Regions from separate parts of the Homo sapiens genome. Here all the other regions are linked to region 3. The links come from fine-mapping of genetic effects on gene expression. A gene starts in region 3. Each other region holds a variant in brackets. All regions are shown on one strand. Distances are from middle to middle. Region 1 has its middle 110 kb from the start of LINC03064. Region 2 has its middle 67 kb from the start of RBL2. Region 3 holds the start of RBL2 (RB transcriptional corepressor like 2).

Evidence for each region. PIP is the estimated chance that this variant, and not a neighbour inherited with it, causes the effect.
Region 1: its variant is fine-mapped to the expression of RBL2 in B cells (Fairfax 2012, PIP 0.95).
Region 2: its variant is fine-mapped to the expression of RBL2 in whole blood (TOPMed, PIP above 0.99).

What each region holds. Positions count from the first base shown.
Region 1 is chr16:52,708,485-52,717,028 of GRCh38, reverse strand. No RefSeq gene overlaps it. Among named protein-coding and RNA genes, the nearest start is that of LINC03064, 110 kb to the right of the region's middle. The variant CTTTCTTTCTT/T (reference allele first, on the strand shown) is at 5,478.
Region 2 is chr16:53,362,676-53,372,866 of GRCh38, reverse strand. It overlaps the pseudogene LOC101929000 and the pseudogene MPHOSPH10P1. Among named protein-coding and RNA genes, the nearest start is that of RBL2, 67 kb to the left of the region's middle. The variant G/T (reference allele first, on the strand shown) is at 2,576.
Region 3 is chr16:53,432,016-53,437,015 of GRCh38, reverse strand. It overlaps RBL2 (RB transcriptional corepressor like 2), which reads right to left and starts at 2,545. Exons shown (of 22, transcript NM_005611.4): 1 at 2,220-2,545. The coding sequence starts at 2,459. RefSeq lists an enhancer at 1,551-1,660 and a silencer at 2,271-2,490.

The DNA of each region.
Region 1 (8,544 bases), 720 kb after region 3:
TTCTGTCCATTTCTGCCTCTTCCCACCTCTGACACGGGGGTTGTGATCCCTGATAAATATCCTGCACACCAAATTCCATTTCAGCATCTGCCTGCAGGGAACCCAACTTACGACACTCAAGGATAACCAGGATTTGCTAAAGACAAGTGTTAAAGAAAAAAATTATTCGTTATACTTGTTAAATATGCTACGAAAGACTTTATTCCAGGGGCCTCCTACAATTGGGATTTTGTAGTAAGTGAAAGAGATCAGGCTCACCTTCAAATACAACAAGGAAAAGTGGAAATTCATAGTCAAGAGGGGTAGGGTGAGGTGGGTGTTGATGGATGAAAATTACTATAACGAAACTTCAAGGGTAAATGGGGGATTCTGGCCAAATCTGCCTAACTGGCTTCCTGCTGAAGGCAGGCCAGACATCACCTGGACGATGATGGAGGATGAGAAACCTGAACAGATATAGAGAGTGATCAGATATTGAGGGGAGGGGGTTCTGGCTAAACTGACTCCGCAGGATTCTTGCTAAAATTGAGCTCTTGGGGGATATGCTTAAGGGTGGGATCTAGTTGGAAGCCTGACTAAAGTTTGATCAAGAAGAGAACATTTGTCGCAAGGAGAGAATTGTTGTCATAAGAAAAATCTTTGTCACTTTGAAGGAGATGTTCAGGGAAGAAATGGAAGACATGGGGGTGTTTGCTGAAGACAAACAGTATTTCCATGGAGCACAGCGGTTTTGGGTGGATGGGGCACAGCAGGTAATTACCTCCAAGTAGAGGATGAGGATCCAGGGGACGACGCCCTTGGGAGCTCGAGCTTTGGTGACAACAGAACATCTGTCAGGGTGCCCCAGAAATTTCTTTTTAAATCCTCAATCAATACTGGCCTTGTCCATCAAACTTCTTGCCTTCCCACAAAGTTATTGATGACTACGAGTCAAAAACAATCTTTTTTTTTTGTATGTCCTACTGGGGCAATTTGGCCTCTGCTGTCTTGTCTTTGGCTTTTAGAGTTTTAGTAATACAAATAACTCTTTTGTTGTTGTTTTGTTTTGTTTTTGAGATGGAGTTTCACACTTGTCACCCAGGCTGGAGTGCAATGGCGCCGTCTCGGCTTACTGCAACCTCCGCCTCCCAGGTTCAAGCGATTCTCCTGCCTTAGCCTCCCGGGTAGCTGGGATTACAGGCATCTGCCACCAAGCCCGGCTAATTTTTGTATTTTCAGTAGAGACGAGGTTTCACCATGTTGGCCAGGCTGTTCTCGAGCTCCTGGCCTCAGGTGATCCACCTGCCTCGGCCTCCCAAAGTGCTGGGATTACGGATGTGAGCCACTGCGCCCGGCCGAGAACTCTTATTTAATATTCAGTTTATCTCATTTAATTTTTATGAGAGCCTTATGAAGTAGATATTATTGCCATTACACAGATAAGGAAGCTGAGGCTTAATGAGAAAGAATAAGTTGCTCATAGTCATGTAATTGGTGCATTTGGAATTCAAACTCAGTTTTAACTCCAGGATCAAGGTATTATCCTATGTCCGCTCATCACAGTGGTACAGTTTTTGGTTGTCAGGTCAATATTTATCTCCAAAATAACTCTTGTTCTGATTTTTGAGTGGACATCATCATAAAATCCAACATTAGTAACTCACAGGCTTGTCACATGCCTCTTCCAGAGATCCCTGATCTGGTTCTGAGATCTTCCTTCCCTTGATGAGAACTTCCCTGTAATGAAGCGTATGCTTAGGAAGGGAGAGCAAATTTCTGTCTGTTTTCCATTCTTTTTCTTACAGAAAAATGCTGGGATGAAATTTCTTTGTTGCCAGGTTCTAGAATGAGGTGGCGTCAGCTTGATTTAAAGTGCATGCCATCTGTTTTGTGTCTAAACGTCAAAACCATAGCCTCTGACATTAAAATTCAAGAAAAAAGATTTACCTGATCCTTTGACCTGTAAAAGTACACTGCTTTCAGATTATAGTGTTGAGGCTGTTGGTTCTTTCTTGTAAATTAATATAAAATATTTAAGCTTGCAGCCATCATTTGGGATCCTCTGCTTAAAAGGACGTCATTGTCTGGTTCTTTATTTAATTTTTTTGGATACGATATATTTGTATATATTTATGGGATACATGTGAAATTTTGCTACATGCATAGAATGTGTGATGATCAAGTTAGGGCATTTAGGGTATCTATCACCTGAGTATTTATCTTTTCTATGTGTTGGTAACATTTCCTCTCTTCTGGCAATTTTGAAAAATACAACATATTGTTCTTAACCATAGTCACCCTACTCTGTTATCAAACATGAGAACTTATTCCTTTTATCCAACTGTATGTTTGCAAGCATCGACCAATCTCTGTTCATCCCCCCTCCACCCATTCCCCCTTCCCGGGTAGCTCTTTCACATACACCCAGAGCAACTTACCTTTTCAACTTGAGTATAATCAATTTTTCCGCGACAGGAAGGCAGTCTTAAATGCCTAAATTACCCCACATCCTTACCGTCAATATCTATTTTTAGTAAGAGTTAGTTATTGGGGGAAAATGTGTTGTTTGAGACTCGATCTGACCTGGAAAATGAGGAGGGCGGCTTAGACTGCTTTCACGCCATTTCTCAACAATATTCTTGACACATGTTGAATGGAATAGGACTGTCGTGAGAAAGGGTTATCTCGGTGGAAGATGCCGTGCAGGGAAGCTCATCTGATTTAGAACTTCTCTGGCCATCCAGAAGAGAGTTCAAAAAGAGAAAGAGGGCAGATTGGGAAAGGGGGTTGGAGAGCTAAGATGCAGACTGGGAGCCCAGGAAACCCATCCTGCAGGAGGGATCCAAGCCCCGGCAGAGGGGAGTTCACACCTATCAGGAGCAGATGAAAGCGGTGTTTGATTCTGGATCCTGGCTCTGCTGCTGGCTCTGGTGGCATTATTCATTTAGTGCCGTTCCATACTTCGCAGGAAAAGCACAGCAGGCTTATAATGCTTGAGTTTTTAAACATTCAGAGGACTGTGATGCTATAAATAAACTTCCTGTGTCAGAGATTAAATCAACCAAGATGCCTGCCATGCCAACTTTATTTCTGAAACAACGTGTTTTCAACAGAAATCAAAATACATGTTAATCCTTCCCTTCTGACAGGCTAATATGAGCCTTGCAAATCACAGTGGAGAGCTACCTAGAGGACGTTAAGTAGCAGAAGCCGTGTCTGCACGGCTTATCTGTTGGAGAAGTCTGCGGCCATCCCTTGATTTGGAAGTTTTCTGCCTGGACTTGTGGCTTGGGTCTGCAGAATCAGGTTCAGACTGGACTGTTTTTATCAGAAAAGACTTGGCTATTGTGTTTTGGCTAAAACAATGCAGAGGTTGTGTCTTTGAGAAGAGTAATAACAGGTTAGCAGACAGCCGTCCAGTTCAACACCTATTCTCCTTTCTTTGGGTAACAGCACCCTGATTTACTATTCTCCTTTCTTTGGGTAACAGCATCCTGATTTACTATTCTCCTTTCTTTGGGTAACAGCACCCTAATTTACTCTGAGTAACCATCATCCTTCAACCACTCTTATTCCATGAGGTTCTGTGTGGGGGACTCCATCCCCAGCCCCTAAGGCTGGGCTCTGGGCTAACCAATCAGAGCCATCCACCTCCTTCCTTGGCCATCGAAATTGGTTCCAAGGTGAGGCAATGTCCAAAGTGGGATGATGGTGTGAATTTTGACCCTTGGCTGGAACTCCTGAGAAAGGGAAGCTCCTCTTTTGCTGGGGTGGCTAGCTTAGCACTGCCGAAATTCATCACTGTGACCTGATCACCTGAGATTGATGCCCACTCAGAGTAAAGCAGAGATGAGAGACAGAGACAGATTCCTGATGATATTGTTGGAGCACCTGAATAAAGCCCTGCTTGAAATTAGAAGCCCTCCTGGACTTGTTTGCATGATTAGATTCTATTCTTTTCCATTGAGAATGAGCTGGCTTTCCGTTACCTGAAATTGAAATAGTCCTGATTAATTCAGTGGTCCAGCTGGTGAATTCAGCCAACTGGTCAATTCTGTGACAAAAGGTATTTATGGATTTATCAACTTGTTGTTAGATTAGATTTATTCTAACTTAGTGAGATTGATGGTAGGGCAGCCCAGGGCCGGCTCAGCTCTAGGTAAATAGTGTGGCCATAGGATCCCCAGCAGAGACAAAGAGTGGCCCTGAAAAGCTGGGTATGGCAGCTGGTGAGTTTCAGCTGGAGGCTGTGTTTCTAGAGAGAAGTGGCCTCCCATCAGGGATCCTTGGCCTTCTGAGTACCTTTAAGGATGTGAGGAGGCTGTATTCTTCTCCCTAGAGAGATTTACACATGCCTTTTCCCACCAAGTTTTCCACGTAATTTTAGGTGATTCTCTGAATTGCAGAAAGCCAGCCATGGGCCCCTTGGGGATTCCAGGTTATACAGTAGGAACCTGGACAGGTGACTTGCTTTTTACATCTTACAGGGTCTCTCATGGATGCTACAAATATGCTGGCTAAGATTTTTGAGTACTCACCAGGTCTCAGCCACTACACTTAACATGTAGTATTTACCTATATTTTTACAATGACCCTATTGGGTAGATGTTATCATTATCCTAACTTTACAAATGAATAATTTAAAAGATGAAAAAGTTAGGTATCTTGCTCAAGGTCACCCAGCTTATAAGTGAGTAAAATTTAAATCTCAGTCTAGAAGACACAAGAGACCACATTCTAAATCACTTTAGTGACTTTAGAAATTACTAATGGATCACAGTGACTACCAGTCCATAATAATTTGGATCCTTACATCTAACTTAAATCCATCACGATGTAGTGTAAACCCATTGCTTCTTGTAAGTCACATGGTATTAGATTGTGCCAATCTCAAAACAGGCAAGTGATTTACAGTAAATTAGTATCTGAGACTCAGGTTCTTTATATGGGAATCATGGTTAGTAAATTATTATTTTATTTTTTCATTTTCTTTACTTTGTCAAATTTTTGAAAATTACAAAAGAAAAACATGCTTATAAAAACTTGACACAGAAATAGAGAGCAGTGAGTAGGAGCAGCATGAAAATTCCCCTCAGTGGCTTCTGCTATGGATTAGTTTTAAACTTGGGTGTATAATCTGCCAAACTGTGTCCATGGATTTATACAGTCTTCTTACAACATGTGTAAAGAGTTTCTTTTACTTTTTCCAGTTTTATTGAGGTATTATTGACAAGTAAAAATTGTATATACTGAAAGTGTGTAACTTGATGTTTTGATATACATATACATTGTAAAATAATCACCATAATAAAATTAATTAACATATCCAGTACCTCACATAATTACCATTTCCTTCCTTCCTTCATTCCTTCCTTCCTTTCTCTTCTCTTCAATTTTTTCTTTCTTTCTTTCTTTCCTTTTTCTTTCTTTTTCTGTCTTTCCCTTTCTTTCTTTTTCTTTCTTTCTTTCTTTCTTTCTTTCTTTCTTTCTTTCTTTCT[CTTTCTTTCTT/T]TCTCTTTCTTTCTCCTTCTTTCTTTCTTTCTTTCTTTCTTTCTTTCTTTCTTTTTCTTTCTTTCTTTCTTTCTTTCTTCTTTCCTTGTGACAACACTTAAGATCTACTCTCAGTAAATCTCAAGTATACAATACAGTATTGCTAACTATAGTCACATTGCTTATACAGTTTATTTTAAAACAAAAATAGAATCATATTTTGGCATCTTTCCATGTCAGGGTACATATAGATCTACTATTGCGCTTTTGATAACTACATTTAATCCACAAATATGAGCATATGTATTTAGTATTGTCATTCCCTGACTGATGGACATTTCAGTTGCCTCCATTTAAAAAAAAAACTATTATTTTAAATTCTGCTGCAGTGAATACACTTGTGTATATATCTTTGCCACAAGGCTAAATATTTCTATAAAACAGATCTCTAGAAGTAGAATTGCAGGGGCTAGCACACTTCTCTATTTTAAAGTAAATGCATGAAAGACCATTTTTAGCACCATTAAAGGGATTCCAGTGAAATATCCTAGAGCTTGTTAAGTTTGTCTGTTTTTCCTGTGCTTAGGATCATTTGGGCACGGAGACAACGTGCCTTCTTGGTTGTACTGGTTGTCACACTCCCGCTGGAGCCTCCTTTATATTCAAGAGCTCCTCTGAGTCCCGTCTTCCCTTGAGCGGTCCAGGGCTTAGGTTTATTGTGGCAGATTTGGAGCCAGCTTCCCAAGCCGTGCACATCTGCCCTCTGAACACATGCTGGCTACCTGCAGACATCAGCTGGGGCTTGGGAGCCACTGCCCAACAAGCAGTGACTGGTTGTATCCTCAGCGATACCCACAGCCAAAGTCTGAAACCACTGTCTGTTAAGAGTACATGGGATCCAGAAGAATGGTTGCCTGAAATGGAGAGGCTGAAGGCTTACAGCCTTTGACAAAATCTCATTAATTGGTTCATTCCTTTAACAACTATTTTTTGAGCCTTTACTATGAGCCAAGCACTGTGGCCAGAGTTAGAGATACCAGAGGTCACCAAAAACACATACGGCGACCCTTCTCTCGTGGTGACTCTAAAACATGCCAGTTAGGTATATTCTCTTCTCCTGTACACGTCTGGTTTTATGTCTGGGAAACACTTTAAATGAAAAGTAGATTTGAAAAGGTATTTTAGAAGCCAGAACGAATCAACCCAAGCTGGGTGACGACAAAACTTCCTTAAAAACTGCAGCAGAGAGTTGGCAGGACACTGGGATAAAAAAATAAATCAAATGCTGTTAATCATTTTGCCTCCATCTCCTTCTCCTCCCTCCTGTAGCGTTGTTTCCTCCACCCCGGCTGAGTGAACTATGTGACCACTTTACTCCCAGCACAGCTGATTGGACCAGGACTGAAGCCCTGATTCAGGCTCAGTCAATCAGATCCTCTCTTGGGGTGCTGATTTTGTAACGTCATGACCCAGGACAGGTTTTTTAGGGCAGCCTAATTGGAAAGCATTACAAAGGTGGAACCCATGGTGAGATGGAGCAGAGAGGACCACACTGCAGAGAAAGCGAGAATTAAACTGGTAAAAGGAAAGAAGCAGGGAAGCAAACCATGAAGCTTCTGAAAGAAACAGAGCTGGAGCGAGTATCTCCCTTTATGTCAGAATTATCTCCAGAGATCCAGAGCACTTCTTATTCTTGGATTCCCTGAGCCTTCCAACCATTCCAACAAATCCCCATTTTTTCTTGAGCTAACCTGATGGCTCCTCTTTCTGATAACCACCCTCATCCTCTGGGATAAGACAGTATTTGCCTCCTTCTTTGTACTATTGAGAAAAAGAGCAATAGAGAAGCTTCTTTTCATCCTGTTCCTCAAGGCTGAACTTGATATGTTCTTGGGAGATATATTCTTTCTGACTCTATCTGCCATTTTTCGAATGGCCTGATTGTTTTGGAGACATGATGAACTCTGTCCTCAGGGACTCCCTAACGAAGGCTCAGCTTGGAGAATTCATGAATCCATTTGTTCATCAATTAGGGAGCCCTGGAAGCAGACACACTGGGCGAGAGGCTCCTCACTGCTCTCTGCTGGGTGGAGATGGGAGACCAGGCACATCCCCTAGAGAAGCTTCCCCAGAAATGTGGCTCACTGTGGAGGCCAATGAAGCCTCTGCTATTTTCCCCTGGAGAAACTGACAACATGGACAAGCCTGTGTAACCAGAATTATAATGTAAATCCAAGCCTAGAGACTCAAAGTCAGTGAGGAAATAAGCAAATTCCCAAAGAGTTTCTGATCACTGGGTGGTGGTGGAGAGCAGGGAACACAGGACTGTCCAGAAAAATACTTCCCTGACTAGGGAACCCCAGAGAGATGAAAACAAATTCCTATTTTTGCTTTAATTACACACAAATGTACGCATACACAAACACACATGTAAAAAATTTTATTGCTGGATCACTGTGGAGTGAAACAGATACACACTTATCATAGGAAAGCTGGAAGAACCTGGATTAAAAAGAGTGGCTTGTGTGGCTGGGTGAGTTAACAGTTAGGTTCAGTATCCCCATGAGAATCTCTGCCAAGATGAATCTCTCCTTTTCCCAGAAGCTTTGAAAGAAACAAAAACTTAATAATCTTAATAGACGAATTTGACTCAAAAGACCTGTTAAAGGACAGGGAAGCATCTTCTCTTGTCTCCCCAACCCCGACTGCCTTGTCCTTTGCCCATGCCAGTTGACAACACAAACCCCCTCTCTCTACTCCCCTTGAGGATTCAGCCTGGATGCCTTTGCCCCCTAAATTTCCATTGCCTCTAGGTCTCCTTTGTGGTTTTTCTCACTCAAACTGGCATTTTGCATACAGTGGAGAGCAGCAGGGAACTCAGGCTGGCATTAGGAGCAAATCTGGTTTCTTTCTTTGTCTTTATTCCTCCACTCCCTTCCCCCCACCCCACCACCCCCTTCCTTTAGATAGGCGCCTTCAGCTGTGTATAAATTAAGCACATTCTTCTGCCTTTGCAGGTCACATCTGGGATATTCTGGACATCTCTGGTATAAACCCTAAATTTATGAAACCAGTAAT
Region 2 (10,191 bases), 67 kb after region 3:
GATTATACTTTCCTAGGCTATCACAATTTTCAAAATTGTTAAAATTTTTACAGTATGGCTCTCTCAGTTGAATGTTATTGAAATCCACCAAATAACCTCAGTTATTAACGCCTAGAAGCTCCCCTGGAGGCTTATTACTGCCGCCATACCCCTACACACAAACTGTTTTGGTTTCTCCTTCCGCCTATGTACTCCTAAAGCACTCAGTATTTACCTGTCATCATACTTTATTGAAAGTACAAACTCGTCACTTGTCTGTCCACCCCAACTAAGCTTCTTGAGAATTAGAACTTTCCTGTCTCTTCCCAGCACAAAAGTTTTATGGGTATTCTGTTGAAGAACTTCAAATATGATCTATAAAATTATGACTCATTTATATTTCAAACTCCAACCTCTCCCTTGAGTTCCTGGCTCACAGCGACTACAGACTGAGCTTAGTTGGAATTCAGTAGCACACAACTGGGATATCCGCACTGTACGGCTTTTAACAATTTTTAAAATTTTGGTACTCTCAGCATCGCAAATTCACTGTGTCCAAAATAGAGTAGAATGTTGTTCTACCCACCTATACTCTGCCATCCGCTGAAGTCCTTTCCCCATGCTCCAGCACTCAAGCCTTGCCTGTCACAGTAAATGGCAGTTCTGTCTTTCCTGTTGCTCACACATAAAACTAGGCTGCTATTTTGATGTCTTCATTTTTCTCTATTCTGTATCTAATTCCTTAGCAATCCTGTCAGTTCTACCTCCAGACTGTACTCAGCATATTCACTGCTCTAACTCCAGCTTAAATCACCATCATCCTTTGCCTGGAATGCTGCATCAACCTTCTAATCACTCTACTTTCCTCCTCCTCCTTCCTCCCTTTCTTCTTCCTTCTTGTAAATCATCATTTCATCCTTCTGCTTAAAATCTTCTCATGTTTTCTTATTACACTTAAAATGGCAAACTCTTACCCTTGAGCCCTGTAGAATTTGGCTCCCATCAGTTTCTCCAATTTCACCTTCTGCCTCCTTCACACTCTAGCTGTGCTCACTTTTTTATTCCTCAGGCCTACCAAGCTCAATTGCATCTTAGAGAATTTGTTCTTGCTGTTTCTTCTGCCTGGAATACATGTTTCCCAATCTTTATAAGACTATCCTTATCTGTAGGTTTCATCTGAGATGTCACATCCAAAAGAGGTTTTCCTTGACCACTGTAGCCAAAGCAAATGTTGATCACTGAAGGAATAAGGGAATGAATGAATGGAGTGGTGTATAATATAGCAGAGTTGATAATTTAAGGCTAATTCACTATGTATCTCCAAGCAAACAGATTTGTAATGCTTTTCCTGCCTAAAATCTATACAGCTGATTCACAAATACTTGATTGACAGGTTTTATATATCACTGTGGCTCATCAGCTTGTATGTTGTTGGGGCCAGAATCTATACTTACACTTCATTCAAATTTGATTTTACAGAAGAGTTGGGGTTTTTATTTTTCTTTTAATTAAGAGAGCTGTGAAATTATTACCTATAATTCTAAATCTCATTTAATTCCTCCCAATAGGATTCAAGATGGATTGTCATCAAAGTTCACTTCTTTAACAAAAGTGGTTTATGACTTTAATAAAATATTAGAGAATGGAAGGATCTGTGGAAGCCCTTTACAAAAACTTGTGATAGAAAGTTTTGATGATGAGCAGACTTTGCAACAACTGGAATTGCAAAATGAACCAATTTTACAATGCTTCCAAAATGCAGTTAGTGAAACAAAGATGAAGACATCAGTCTTCTCCCAGAGAGTGAAGAACAGGAGTGTGAAGAGGATGGTTCAGAGACAGAGACTGGTGGCCAGGAGGACCTAGAAGATTTACAGGAGGAAGAGGAAGTGTCAGATATGGGTGGTGACAATCCTGAAGTGGGCAAGAAAGCTAGAAACTCAAGCAAATTTGAGCTGAGGAAAAGCCCAGTTTTCAGTGATGAGGATTCTGACCTTGACTTTGATATCAGCAAATTGGAACAGCAGAGCAAGGTGCAAAACACAGGACATGGAAAACCAAGAGAAAAGTCCATAATAGACGAGAAATTCTTCCAACTCTCTGAAATGGAGGCTTATTTAGAAAACAGAGAAAAAGAAGAGGAACGAAAAGATGATAATGATGATGAGGTGGAAGATACTGATTTTTTTTTGAAGATATTGATTCTGATGAAGATAAAAGGGGACTGTTTGGAAGTAAAAAACTTAAGGTTAAGTTTGAGAAAGGAGAGAGCACTTTCCTCCTCCTCAAATTAGCTTTTGTTCTGTTTTTCTAGGAGAGATGTAATTGTAGTTAGAAGGTTTAGAGCTAAGATATATTATGCTTTGTTTTATCAGTTATAAATGAATCTGTACTTCCATTCAGTTTATGTTCCAGTTGTTCTTATAATAGTTTTATGGTAGTGTTTTTAGTTGCCAATTTCACCTAGTAACTATTTTTGACTTGTAGTGTTAAGTTAGAAAGTAATATAGACATACAGTATATATATATGCATGTGTTAATGATGTATTTTTCTATTCCTAATTAATAGTTTTAAAAATCTTTTTATTTTAGTCAG[G/T]TAAAAGTTCCAGAAATGTGAACAACAAAGATTTTTTTGATCCAGTTGAAAGTGATGAAGACATAGCAAGTGATCATGATGATGAGCTGGGTTCAAACAAGATGATGAAATTGCTGAAGAAGAAGCAGAAGAAGGAAGCATTTCTGAAATGTGAGTATTTTGAAACATCCTTTACTTTGTGAGCTGGAATTGCCCAATCAGTGTTTGTATTTGTGGTTTTCACATATGTTTGTTTTAAGAAGTTAGATACTCTCCTATCAGATCTTCTCAAGATAGCCAGAGGAAAGTCACTGGATTTAAACGGACATTAGAGATCATTTAATGAAGAAAAATATTACTGACAGTAGCAATCAAACCTTTCTTACCAGGAACTTTGATTTGGTTTTGTGCCCCCAAAATCCTGTTATTTTTGTGAGATAAGAGGTTTGTATTATAGATTGATGAATAATTTATTTTCTATATATTGGACCCTTTTTGTTTCTTACATAGCATTTCACTTAAATGATAGCTTCTCTTCCTTAATACCTGAATGATTTTGGAAGTTCTAAGTATCTGGTTGCATTAGGCATATAAAAGAGGAACTTTGTTAAGGGAAAATATGTTTCCTTTTGTTTTTCTAATGGAAAACAATATATTTCTTTTTATAAGAGTTTTGGTAGTGTAGGGATGAAGGTGATCACCTGGAAGAAAGAGAAGACAGTAAACAATGTAAAGAAAGCTTGAAAAGAGTGACTTTTGCTTTGCCGGATGATGAGGCAACTGAAGATGCAGGTGTTTTAAATGTAAAGAAAAATTCTGATGAAGTTAATCTTCTTTTGAAAAAAGACAGGAAAAGGTAATTAGGAATTTAAGGAATTTTTAATATGCTTCGCATGATTGTGGAACTCACAGACTACTAACAAATCTTCCCTATTTTCTTTCTTTTTTTTTTGAGATGGAGTCTTGCTCTGTCACCCAGGCTGGAGTGCAATGGCGTGATCTCGGCTCACTGCAGCCTCCACCTCCCGGGTTCAAGTGATTCTGCCTCAGCCTCCTGAGTAGCTGAGATTAAAGGTGCATTCCACCATGCCTGGCCAATTTTTGTATTTTTAGAAGACATGGGGTTTCACCGTGTTGGCCAGGCTGATCTCGAACTCCTGACCTCAGGTGATCCTCCTGCCTTGGCCTCCCAAAGTGCTGAGATTACAGGCGTGAGCCACTGTGCCCTAGCCTTCCCTATTTTTCTTGTTGTAACTATTAACCATCCTTTGAAAACAAATATCTTGGCCAGGTGTGGTGGTTGATGCCTGTAATCCTAGCACTTTGGTAGTCTGAAGCGGGAGGATCACTTGAGCTCAGGAGTTCAAGACCAGCCTGGGCAACATAGTGAGGCCCTGTCTCTACAAAAAATAAAAAAATTAGTGGGGCATGGTGGTGTATGCCTGTAATCCAGCGACTCAGGTGGCTGAGGCGGGAGGATCACTTGAGCCCAGGAGGTTGATGCTGCAGTGAGCTATGATCACATCACTGCTTTCCAGCCTGGGTGGTGGAGCAAGATCCTGTCTTCAAACAAACAAACAAACAAACAAACAGAAAACTGAAGATCTTGCTGCTACTCTCTAAAGCAAAAGCACATCTTATAGAGATGCCATATGGAAAGCATCTGATTTGCAGAAATCAGTGCCTGCGTTACCCAGCCTATAGCTTTCAATTTGGGGCCTGCGTGTAAAATAGTTGTTTCTTTTCTCTCTCCCTTGTGTCTTTATATGTATAGCCTGTCTCTCCTGACAAAGCTGTCCTGAGAGCCTCTTCTTGTAACTGTTTTGACTGCTCTAGAGGATACCGCCTATGTCTTTAAGGTGCTCCACAGATTTTGGTGAATGTCAAATAGCTGTAATTTTAATTAATACCAGGACAAACATATCTTCCCAAAGTATGTCATGATTTCAGACAAGTGAAATCTCATTAATTTTAGTAGATATAGTCTGGCTCCAATAATTTGGCTATATTATTTATCCAATCCCAAAATTTTATTATAATAAAAATGAGAATAGTGCCAGGCACAGTAGCTCACACTTGTAATCCCAGCACTTTGGGAGACTGAGGAGGGAGGATTGCTTGAGCCCAAGTGTTCAAGACCAGCATGGACAACACGGTGAAACCCCGTCTCCACTACAAATTTAAAAAATTAGCTGGGTGTGGTAGCATGAGCCTATAGTCTCTGCTACTCGAGAGGCTTATCGGGGATGATCACTTGAGTCCAGCAGTTCAAGGCTGCAGTGAGCTATGATTGGACTAGGCACTCCAGCCTGGGCAACAGAGCTGGAGAACAGGCAAATAAACTATACCAAGAATATCAAAAGAATTATTTTTAAAATCTGCGAATCTAAATTAAATTCATCGTTGTCAGATTGTCCCAAGAAAATAAATTCTAAAGGGGGAAAAAAACCATAAAGTATCAATGAGTTAGTGTCCTCCCATCCCACTCCTCCCACCCTTCCCCCACAAAAAAGAAAGAAAGGTTTGGTTTTGCTTTGAAATTATATCAGACCTTCAAGTGAAATTTTCAGTAAATCACAAATAATTTATTGCAATTTCCACAGATAAAGAATAAAATAGAACTTTCAAACTTTTTTCTTTTCAAACTGTTAGAACATGAAAACCCAAACCTGACAAAGGTGGCGTTAAAACACACACACTCTCTCATTCATGACTAGTGATGCAAACATAGCACAGTGGGAAAATTATGCCACACAACCACATGAACCTTATCCTTTTGAATCACTATTAGAAGATCTGATATGATTCCTGGTTGCAAGACGTTAAGGAGAAAATACACGGTTCCCTCCATATATGTTAGAAAGACATTTGATAAAATTCAATATTTATTTCTGATTTTTTTTTAACTCCTAGTGGGTTATAAATACATCTAGCCAAAAGCTGCCATCATGCATGATGGGTGAAATTCTACAAACATCCCTTTAAGATCAGGAATAAGACAAAATGTCCAGTATTACAGTTACCCCTGTTAATTAACACTAACAGTTAATAGCCACATAAGCCAGTGCAACTACAAAAGATAAGAGATTAGGAAAACTTCCAGGAGCAGTGGTTCACACCTGTAATCCCAGCACTTTGGGAGCTCAGGAGCTCTCAGCACTTGAGCTCAGGAGTTTGAGACCAGCCCAGGCAACATGGTGAGACCTCATCTCTGCAAAAAAATACAAAATTAGCTGGGCGCGTTACATGTGCCTGTGTCCCAGCTACTTGGGAGTCTGAAGTGAGAGGACTGCTTGAGCCTGGGAGATGGAGGTTGCAATGAGCTGAGATAGTGCAGCTGTACTCCAGCCTGGGCAACAGAGCGAGACTCTGTCTCAAAAAAAAAAAAAAAAAAAAAAAGATTAGGGATACTAAAATGAAAACATTAGTGTTTGGAGAGAAAACCGAAAGGATAAACTGAATCAATATTAGGAAAATAAGAGAATTCTGTAAGTTAGCTGAAAAAGCTGGCATTTTATACACTGAAGTCATAATTGTTGTCTTTTAGAAGTTAGAGATAATAAGAATTTGAGTTTAAAGTCAAAAGGGTCAGACTCCATCAAATACTAATATCCTAATCAAAGAATTACTTGGCCAGGTGTGGTGGCTCACGCCTGTAATCTCAGCACTTTGGGAGGCCAAGGTGGGTGGATCACGAGGTCAGGAGATCAAGACCATCCTGGCTAACATGATGAAACCCCATCTCTACTAAAAATACAAAAAATTAGCCAGGCGTGGTGGCGGGTGCCTGTAGTCCCAGCTACTCCAGAGGCTGAGGCAGGAGAATGGCTTGAACCCGGGAGGAGGAGCTTGCAGTGAGCTGAGATCATGCCACTGCACTCCAGCCTGGCCAACAGAGTGAGAGACTCCATCTAAAAAAAAAAAAAAAAAAAGAATTACTTAACTTTAGGATGCTCTAATAATCAAAATTGATAGTGGCTTGTGAACAGATAGATCACTTGAATAGAATAGAGCCCAGAAATAAACCCAAATGCTTCTGAGGGAGTTTAGTATATTATAAACATGAAATTTTAAATAAATGAGGATAAGAAATTATTTGCAGCTCACCTCACCATAGGCAGCAGGAATAGGAGGTCATTGGCAGAATAAAAAGATGGTAAGAACAGAACAGAATTATAGAACAGTACATTTTTTGCTTCCCCACTTTTCAAAGTATTTTTTGTTTTTACACAAGTATAATTTTATTTTCTAAATGTATACTAATTTTTTTGTCTCTTTCTTAGATGAATGAAAAAAATTACATCTTTAGAAAAAGAGTTATTAGAAAAAAGCCTTGGCAGCGTCGGGGGGAAGTGACAGCACAGAAGAGACCAGAGAATAGCTTCCTGGAGGAGACCCTGCACTTTAACCATGCTGTCTGGATGGGTACAGTGCCCTCTTCTGCAAAGAGTTCACTTCTATGCTTTTTCTGTGGTTCCATTTCATAGAAAGATTTGGGGCGATGTTTCTTTTCCCTTAACTTTTTATTTTAAAAACTTGCAAACACAGAAAAGTTGATAAAATCATACAGTGAACATCTGTATTCTATTCAACTGGATTCACTAGTTCACATTTTGTCATATTTGTGTTCTCTTTTCCCCATATGGAAGATTGTATATTTGCCCTTTTTCCCCCTGAATCATTTCAAAGTAAGTTGCCAGTATCATAGCATTTCACTGTTAAGTACTTTTGCAGATATCTCCTAAGAACCAGGATATTCTCCTATATAATCACAATACCATTAATCCACCCAAAACATTTAACATCAGTACACTAATGATACCTACTGTATAGATTATAATCAGCTTCCTTGCAGTAATCTGTTTAGAAGACTTGCATCCTGTCACTGTCCACTGATTAAATTTTGAACTCTTAACTTGAAACCCTGGTCATCTCATTGCCTTCTTTTTTATACCCATTAAGTCAAAATAAGTTTTCATTTTATTTCAACAGAAAAGAGAATGGAAAAGAGGGGAAGAGTCCCTGGTACCTTGGATAAAGTATGAGCACTTACTACCATATGTATTCTAGTTCTGTAGTTTTCAAACTTCAGGGAGCATCTCAAGGCTTATTAAAGCACAGATAGCTGTCCCTCTTCCCCACTTTCTGATTCAGGAAGTGTGGGGCTGGTCCAGGAATTTGCATGTCTAACAGGTTCCCACGTGTTGCTGATGCTGAGGGTCTAAGGACTACAATGCGAGAATCAGTGGTTTAGTGGATATCTATCTAATGAATACATGTTATATTTCCTTTAGCACTTGTGATTACAGGGGAAACACCTTTCAACTGTAATCAGTTATTACAGTTATTATTATTAACTGTAATATATTAACTGTAATTATTATTAACTGTATATTATACAGTTAATAATATATATTAACTGTATGTTATACAGTTAATAATATATATTAACTGTATATATAACTGTATATTAACTGTATATTATTATTAACTGTAATATATTAACTGTAATCTGTTAATATATCATTAAACAGAAGATAAGAGATCAGGTCAGTAAGAATTAAATTTAACTTAATTGAAATGTCACTGAAATTTTTAAAAATAATATGACAGGCTAGGCACAGTGGCTCATGCCTGTAATCCCAGCACTTTGGGAGGCCAAGGCAGATGGATCACTTGAGGTCAGGAGTTCGAGACCAGCCTGTCCAAGATGGTAAAACTCCCTCTCTACTAAAAATACAAAAATTAGCTGGGCATGGTGGTGCATGCCTGTAGTCCCAGCTACTCAGGAGGCTGAAGCAGGGGAATCGCTTGAACTCAGAAGATGGAGGTTGCAGTGAGCTGAGATGCGCCACTGCACTCCAGCCTGGGCAACAGAGCGAGACTCCATCTCAAAATAAATACATAAATAAATAAAATAAAAAGAAAAAATAAAGGGAAGATGGGGCAGTTTTGTGAACTGCACGTCCTGAAACTGGGCTGATTTCCCTCAAGAGGCAGGGATTTAAGCTCATCTCATCTCAACCTGGGGTAATTTGAGTGCCACAGGATAAATATGGGGCATCTTTCTGAAGCATCAGTTTCCCTTGATTCTATTGAGAGACAAAACATTAATGTACTTAGGCATGACAGTCACATAGATTTATGAGTATACAAGACTTCTCTCTGAAATGAGGCTTGGGTTATCCTCTTTCTGTTAAATTCCCAGATTTAACAGAAAGGCTGCCTTCTGCCATGAGGATACATTGATGTAAAAGTTTGAGAGGTACTGGTGCACTTCTTAACACTAACAGATGTGTGAGGGTGTATGGCTCTAAACCACACAGTATACAGTTTCTGCCTACTTAATATTTGCTTTTCTACCTCTGCCTCTGGTTTTGGTCCCTGGCAGCTGCTGATTTGTGGCAAAATCCTGGAGCTCGGAGTCAGAAGACTGAGTTTAAGTTCCATTATTGCCTTTTTTTCAGCCATGGTATCAATCCCTCTCAGTCACTAAGTGATTGTGACAACACTTCCTACAGTTCTTGGTGGCATTAAATCAGATGGTCTATAATAGTATTTTGTATAAACTGTAAAGCAGGATGTGACTGTAGGAGCTTGTAGCTCTCATGAGTATCACTGCTCTTCCTTTCCACAGTTGAGAGACTCTCCTCCCCAGACCAGCCCTAGTGTTGGTACAGGAGCAACCGACACCAAAAAGAAGAAAATAAATAATGGCACTAACCCTGAGACAACCACTTCTGGTGGTTGCCACTCACCTGAGGATGTGAGTCTTGGCTGGCCAGGCTCCTGGAGACAGAGGGCCCAAGGGGTGGTGGAGGGTAATTGTTAAGATTGTGGAAGAACTGCCAGGTACCGGTTAAGAATTCTGGGTTTGAATCCTGCCTCTCCATCTGCTAGGGATATGATTTAGGGCAAATTGCTTGAGCTCTTTGGGCCTCTCTTTTCACATCTGTAAAATAGGAGTGGTATTGTTTTCCTTACATTTGTGAAGTTTAAATGAGATTTGTCATTGTTGTTTTTATGTTAATCCCTAGTCCAGGCCCTGCTGTAAACTATCCTTCTTGGGCTTGCGTTTCCTGAGGTAGAGTTAGAGAGTATCAGAGGTTTCTGTTAGCTCTGAGAGTCTGAGAGTTAAAGGCTGACTAGAATGGAAACCCTGGGGCCAAGGGCTCCTGTCTGCCTTTTCCGTCCTATATCCTTCCTGTGAAGAACAGTCCCTGGCCAGTATGTGCTCAGTCAATGTTTGTTGAGTGAATGCATCTTTCTAAATCACAAGCTGGCAGAAGGGTGGGCTTTTCTCACACTCTATCTCTGAAGGTTTATGTTACTGTCTTTTTGAGAGAATCTAGTTTCAGACTTTCAGTTCTGTGGCTGTGGGCAAAAACCAACAAAGACCCAAATCCTTTTTCTTTGGGAGTTGAGGAGAGTTTACCAGTTCATGTTCCCATTGGGTCTGAGAACTTTGCCTTTAAAATCCATTCCTGGCCCCTGCCTATGGCTTCCTGGCCTGGGGAATAGAGTCAAGGGAGCCACCCTCAGTCGCATTCCTTTGACTCTCCCCATAGAAACAACAGAACCGAGCTCAGCTGGAAGAAGTAACGTGATTTCTGTTTGCTCATGACATGACTGCTGGG
Region 3 (5,000 bases):
AAAAGAAGAATTAGTCTTGTGAGAATTTTACAGTGCTTAGATGACAAAATGGAGCGCGAAGCTCTTTTAAATAATTTATGCAAAGAGTAGACTCTGTGCCTAGTTTATCTTTGGTCCTAAAAAATATATGTTGAAAATTCCATAATACTAAAAAAGTTATCCTCAAAATTAACATCTCATGGTCACATCTTCTAGGGTCAAATAGATCTGGTTTCAAATTCCGGCTCTGCCATACAGTAGCTATAACACAGTGGGGAAATTACTTAACAGTCTCAGAGGCTGCATTTTCTTGGCTGAGGACTGTGAGAATGAGTTACAGGTTAAAAATGCACAGAAAATACAAGAAATCAAGTTAAAATTCCATAACCAGTATTCTGTATTAAACATCATAAGAGCTTTATTTTCCCTTGCACTCCCATGAGAATGACATCCCATATTGTCACAGCGTACCTCACTGTAAGCCCCACAAGAGCAGGTTTGCTGCTCTATATCCAGCACCTAGAACAATGTGTAGCAAGTAATAGGTGCTCAAGAAATATTTGATGAATATTTTACTGAGTAAATCATTTACTGAATAAACTGGGCTAAGAAGCTGAAACTAAAGTCTCAGTAATCAAAAGAATTGAGTAATCAAACATGTTTTCAAAAATAATTTACTAACCAGCTATTACGTGATACTTGCTCATGTATCACTAGACTTCATACAACTTAACTGCTATGAGTTGAAATACCTCAAATAAATGGCGATAATGCTTGTTCTATCTGATTTACAGGATTATCTTGAGGGTAAAATAAGAGCTTGTTTGGAAGCCTTTAAGGCCATTTACCAAAAAAAAACCCAAAAAACAAAAAACAACATAAAAAGCCAACCAGTCCTTCTCTTTGCCAGACTACAGAAAGGCACTGAGAGATGAATAGGAACATAGCTTACTCAGCCAGATCATGTAAATATACAAAGAGCTTAGTAAACTTGAAAACACTGTCCATATGGGTGCTTTATGTGCCAGAAACTACATTATTGCCTTATTTAATCTTCAGAACAGCTCTGTGAGGTAAACACAAATATCTCCAGTTTAGAGATCACCATACTGAACTTTTCCAGCGGTTTCAGGTCTGTCGGGTTCTAAAGCCACCATACACTATCTTCTGCAGACCTAACAATTCAAAGAGGGAACTAGTAATTGAATTAAAATTCTATTAATGCAAATACAAATTAAAAATAACCTCACTCATCAGTACACATAGCCAAAAACATCATATTTAAATAATACCTTGGTTAGGCTTTGCATCCTGGACCTATTTGCCCGACTCTTTCTACAAATTAATTATAAAACGACTTGAGAAATCAAATGGCCTCAGGTTTAAATGCCACACACACAGTCAAACAGCTGATAAACAATCCGTACTTCCGTGTCACTTCCCATTGGCCCATGAAGGGGAGGTGCATACAAAGCTGACACTCACTGGCTAGAATGGCCATTTTTCTCATCTGCAAGCCCTGTCCGAAGGCTGCGACCTAACACACCCGGATCGCAACAACAACAGGAGTCCTGTGCAATGCCCGGGGTGACCAAAAAGCCCTCGAGGTAGCCACAGTCCTGATCCTAGTGACAAATGGGGGCATGTGTCTACATCCGGGTCGGCGGAGGGCTCATTTCATCTGGCCTGGGGGGAAATGAGTATTAATTTGTTTACACAGACGTAAACACAGCCCAAAACGCATCAGCACGTTGACTCAAACGCCCGCAACGCCAGGGCAAAGGCAATTTGGTTAACAGGGGGAAGCGAACAGACGGAGACGCCTGGAGACCCAGGTGCCACAACCCGGTTAATCGCGGTGCAAATAAGGGCAAGTCCCCTCCCCTTGTCCGTGTGGTCTTGACAACGACACTAGTTCATTCTACTAACAAGGCGGGCGGGGGGTCAGATGGGCCACACACACCCATTTTCCTCAACGGGACCCCAGCGCGATCTCAGCCTTGCTGTGCTACTTTAGGGCAAGACGCGTTCCCCATTCGGAAGCCGCAGGAAAGCGCGGCGAGAGCGGGTTAGCCCTCGGAGCGGCTAAGAGCCTCGGAATAGCGCAGAGGAAGTCCCCACCCCTCTCGGGGCTGGGAGCCCGCAACCCGCCCGAGAGTCTCTCGAGGCGCGCGACGCGGCTCGGAAGGCACCGGTTCACGCCAACTAGGCCGGAAGCGCCCCTCCGCCCGCGAGCGCACCTCCAGCGTGTAGCTTTCGCTCATGCTGCGGTAGCTGTCCCAGGCCTCGGCCCGCGCCGCCTCGTCCATGTTGAGGCGGCTGCACAGCTCGTCGAACCGCTGCTGGATCTGAGGGGTGGGCGACTCGGCAGGCGGCGCGGCGTCTTCCGCCTCGCCGTCGTCCTCCTCCTCCTCATCCGAGGCTGCCGCCGCCGGAGGGGGAGGCGGGGGCGGTGGCGACTGGTCACCTCCCGACGGCATAGCGCACCCCTGGGCGGCCGGACCTCAGGTGAGGTGAGGGCCCGGGCCCGCAGCCATTCAAACGGCGAAGCGCCCGCCCGTCCGCCGCCCGCACCGCGCCTGCGCCGCCGCAAACGACGCTGACCGCCTGCAGGCACCCGTAGTCTTGAGCACGGGCTGCTGGGAAACGTAGTCCAGGCCGGCGGTTCAAGGGGGCCAAAAATCATGTTTAAAAAAATTAGCTCCCCTAGTTTCACCAGGGGTGAAATAAAAGCACCTTCCCCGCATTTTAAACACGTACCTCCCCACCGTGAGAACATTCAACAGGGCTGTACTGACGAGAAAATGTCCAAAAGACACTGACGTGTGAAGGTTTCGTATCCAGGCTGTTCCCAGAAGTAAAACTTCCTCATCGCCTGGATATCCTTATCTAAAAAATAGGGATAATAGCAAGGGCCTGTCTCTGTACGTTCACGAAACTGCCTTTGCAAAAATCCTAACAGTGAGAAAGTTATGACAGTGCAAGGGATCTGACCTAAATGACTCCACGCTTCTCACTTCCGAGCTGCCCTTGTTCATTCCTGGGCGAAGACCTAACTAACTACAGGAGGAATTTAATTTCTAATTTCACTTTGAAACAAAGATTGTAACAGTCCTTTCCAAAAACAAACCCCATTCTTGCCTGGGGATCAGTCTGCCTTTGTAGAACTAACAAATTAGCCACAAGATTAGAAATTATGATTTAGGAGGCTTGCAGCCAGAGGCTATAAGATTCCTGACCTCCCCAATTGCTCTCAGGGATAACATCACTATTGTAAAACCTAAGATTGGTGCTGGAGATACTTTTCAGACCGCGCATTCCGATGCACTAGCTGGCGCCACTCAGACCATAATCTGGCTCAACAAGTTCTGCAATTCCACTCAGTAACAGAAGACAGCAAGAGCCCACTTCAACCCCCTGTGATTTCACCTCCCACCTGACAAATTAGCATTCGCCAATCCCTGGCCCCCTACCCGCCAAGTCATTCTTTAAAAACCCCAGTCTCCGAATTTTCTGGTAGGCTGATTTGAATAACCAAACTCCTGTCTGCCGTTCAGCTGGCTCTGCGTGAATTAAACTTTTTTTTTTTTTTTGAGACAGAGTCTGGCTCTGTTGCCCAGGCTGGAGTGTAGTGGCACGATCTCGGCTCACTGCAACCTCCGCCTCCTGGGTTCAAGCGATTCTCCTGCCTCAGCCTCCTGAGTATCTGGGATTACAGGTGTGCGCCACCGCACCCAGCTAATTTTTGTATTTTCAGTACAGGCAGGGTTTCACCATGTTGGCCAGGCTGGTCTCGAACTCCTGACCTCAAGTGATCCACCCACCTCGGCCTCCCAAAGTTCTGGGATTACAGGCGTGAGCCACCGTGCCCAGCCAATTCATTTTATTTCCAATTCTCCTTTCTTTATTTTAATTTTTTAAATTGCCAATCCTTGATTTATAAATGGGCTTGATATAAAACATTTTCCAGATTGAGGAGCAATCTGAGGATTGAGCAATTTGAGGATTCAGAAGGCATTACTGTTTTGCTATTTTTGTTTTGCTTGGTGGGATATGTAAACTGACAGAGGGAAAAGTGCTGGGACAAAAGTAGGGGCTTATGGAAGGTATAATGACAGGCGGGAGGACAGGAAATGGAACTCTGAAGATAGGAGAAAATCAGGTAGACAGGTAACAGGATATTTCAGGAACAATTTTGAGACAATGGAACCCTCTTAAGAAAACCTTAGTAAAATTCACAGTAATCAGCAATGCTTTTGGAGTTGGCTAAGTGATGAGTCTCAAGGTGACTATGGGGCAAGAACAGAAGTTGAACACAAATGGTTTAGAAGTATCTTAAGTATATAGGCTGGACGTTGTGGATCACACCTGTAAATCCAGCACTTTGGGAGGTCAAGGTGGGAGGACTGCTTGAGTACAGGAGTTCGAGACCAGCCTGGGCGACATAGTGAAACCCTGTCTCTACAAAAAATAGAAAAATTAACCCAGAGTGGTGGTACACGCCTGTAATCCTAGCTACTTGGGAGACTGAGGTGGGAGGAACGCCTAAGCCTGGGGAGTCTGCAGTGAACTGTGACCATGCCACTACAGCTTGGGCAACAGAGACCCTGTCTCAAAAAAATAATAATAAATAATTTGGCAAGGCGCGGTGGCTCACGCCTGTAATCCCTACACTTTGGGAGGCCAAGGCGGGCAGATCACTTAAGGTTAGGAGTTTAAGACCAGCCTGGCAAACATTGTGAAACCCCATTTCTACTAAAAATACAAAAAATTAGCCAGGAGTGGTGGCTGGTGCCAGTAATCCCAGCTACTCAGGAGGCTGAGGCAGGAGAATTGCTGGAACCCAGGAGGCAAAGACTGCAGTTAGCTGGGATCATGCCACTGCACTCCAGCCTGGGCGACAGAGCAACTCCATCTCAATAAATAAATAAATTAATAAATAATAAGTGTATTAAAATCTTAGTATTTTACCTGTATATACACTGGGAATATTGATTTTAAAATAATGATATTTCTTCCTT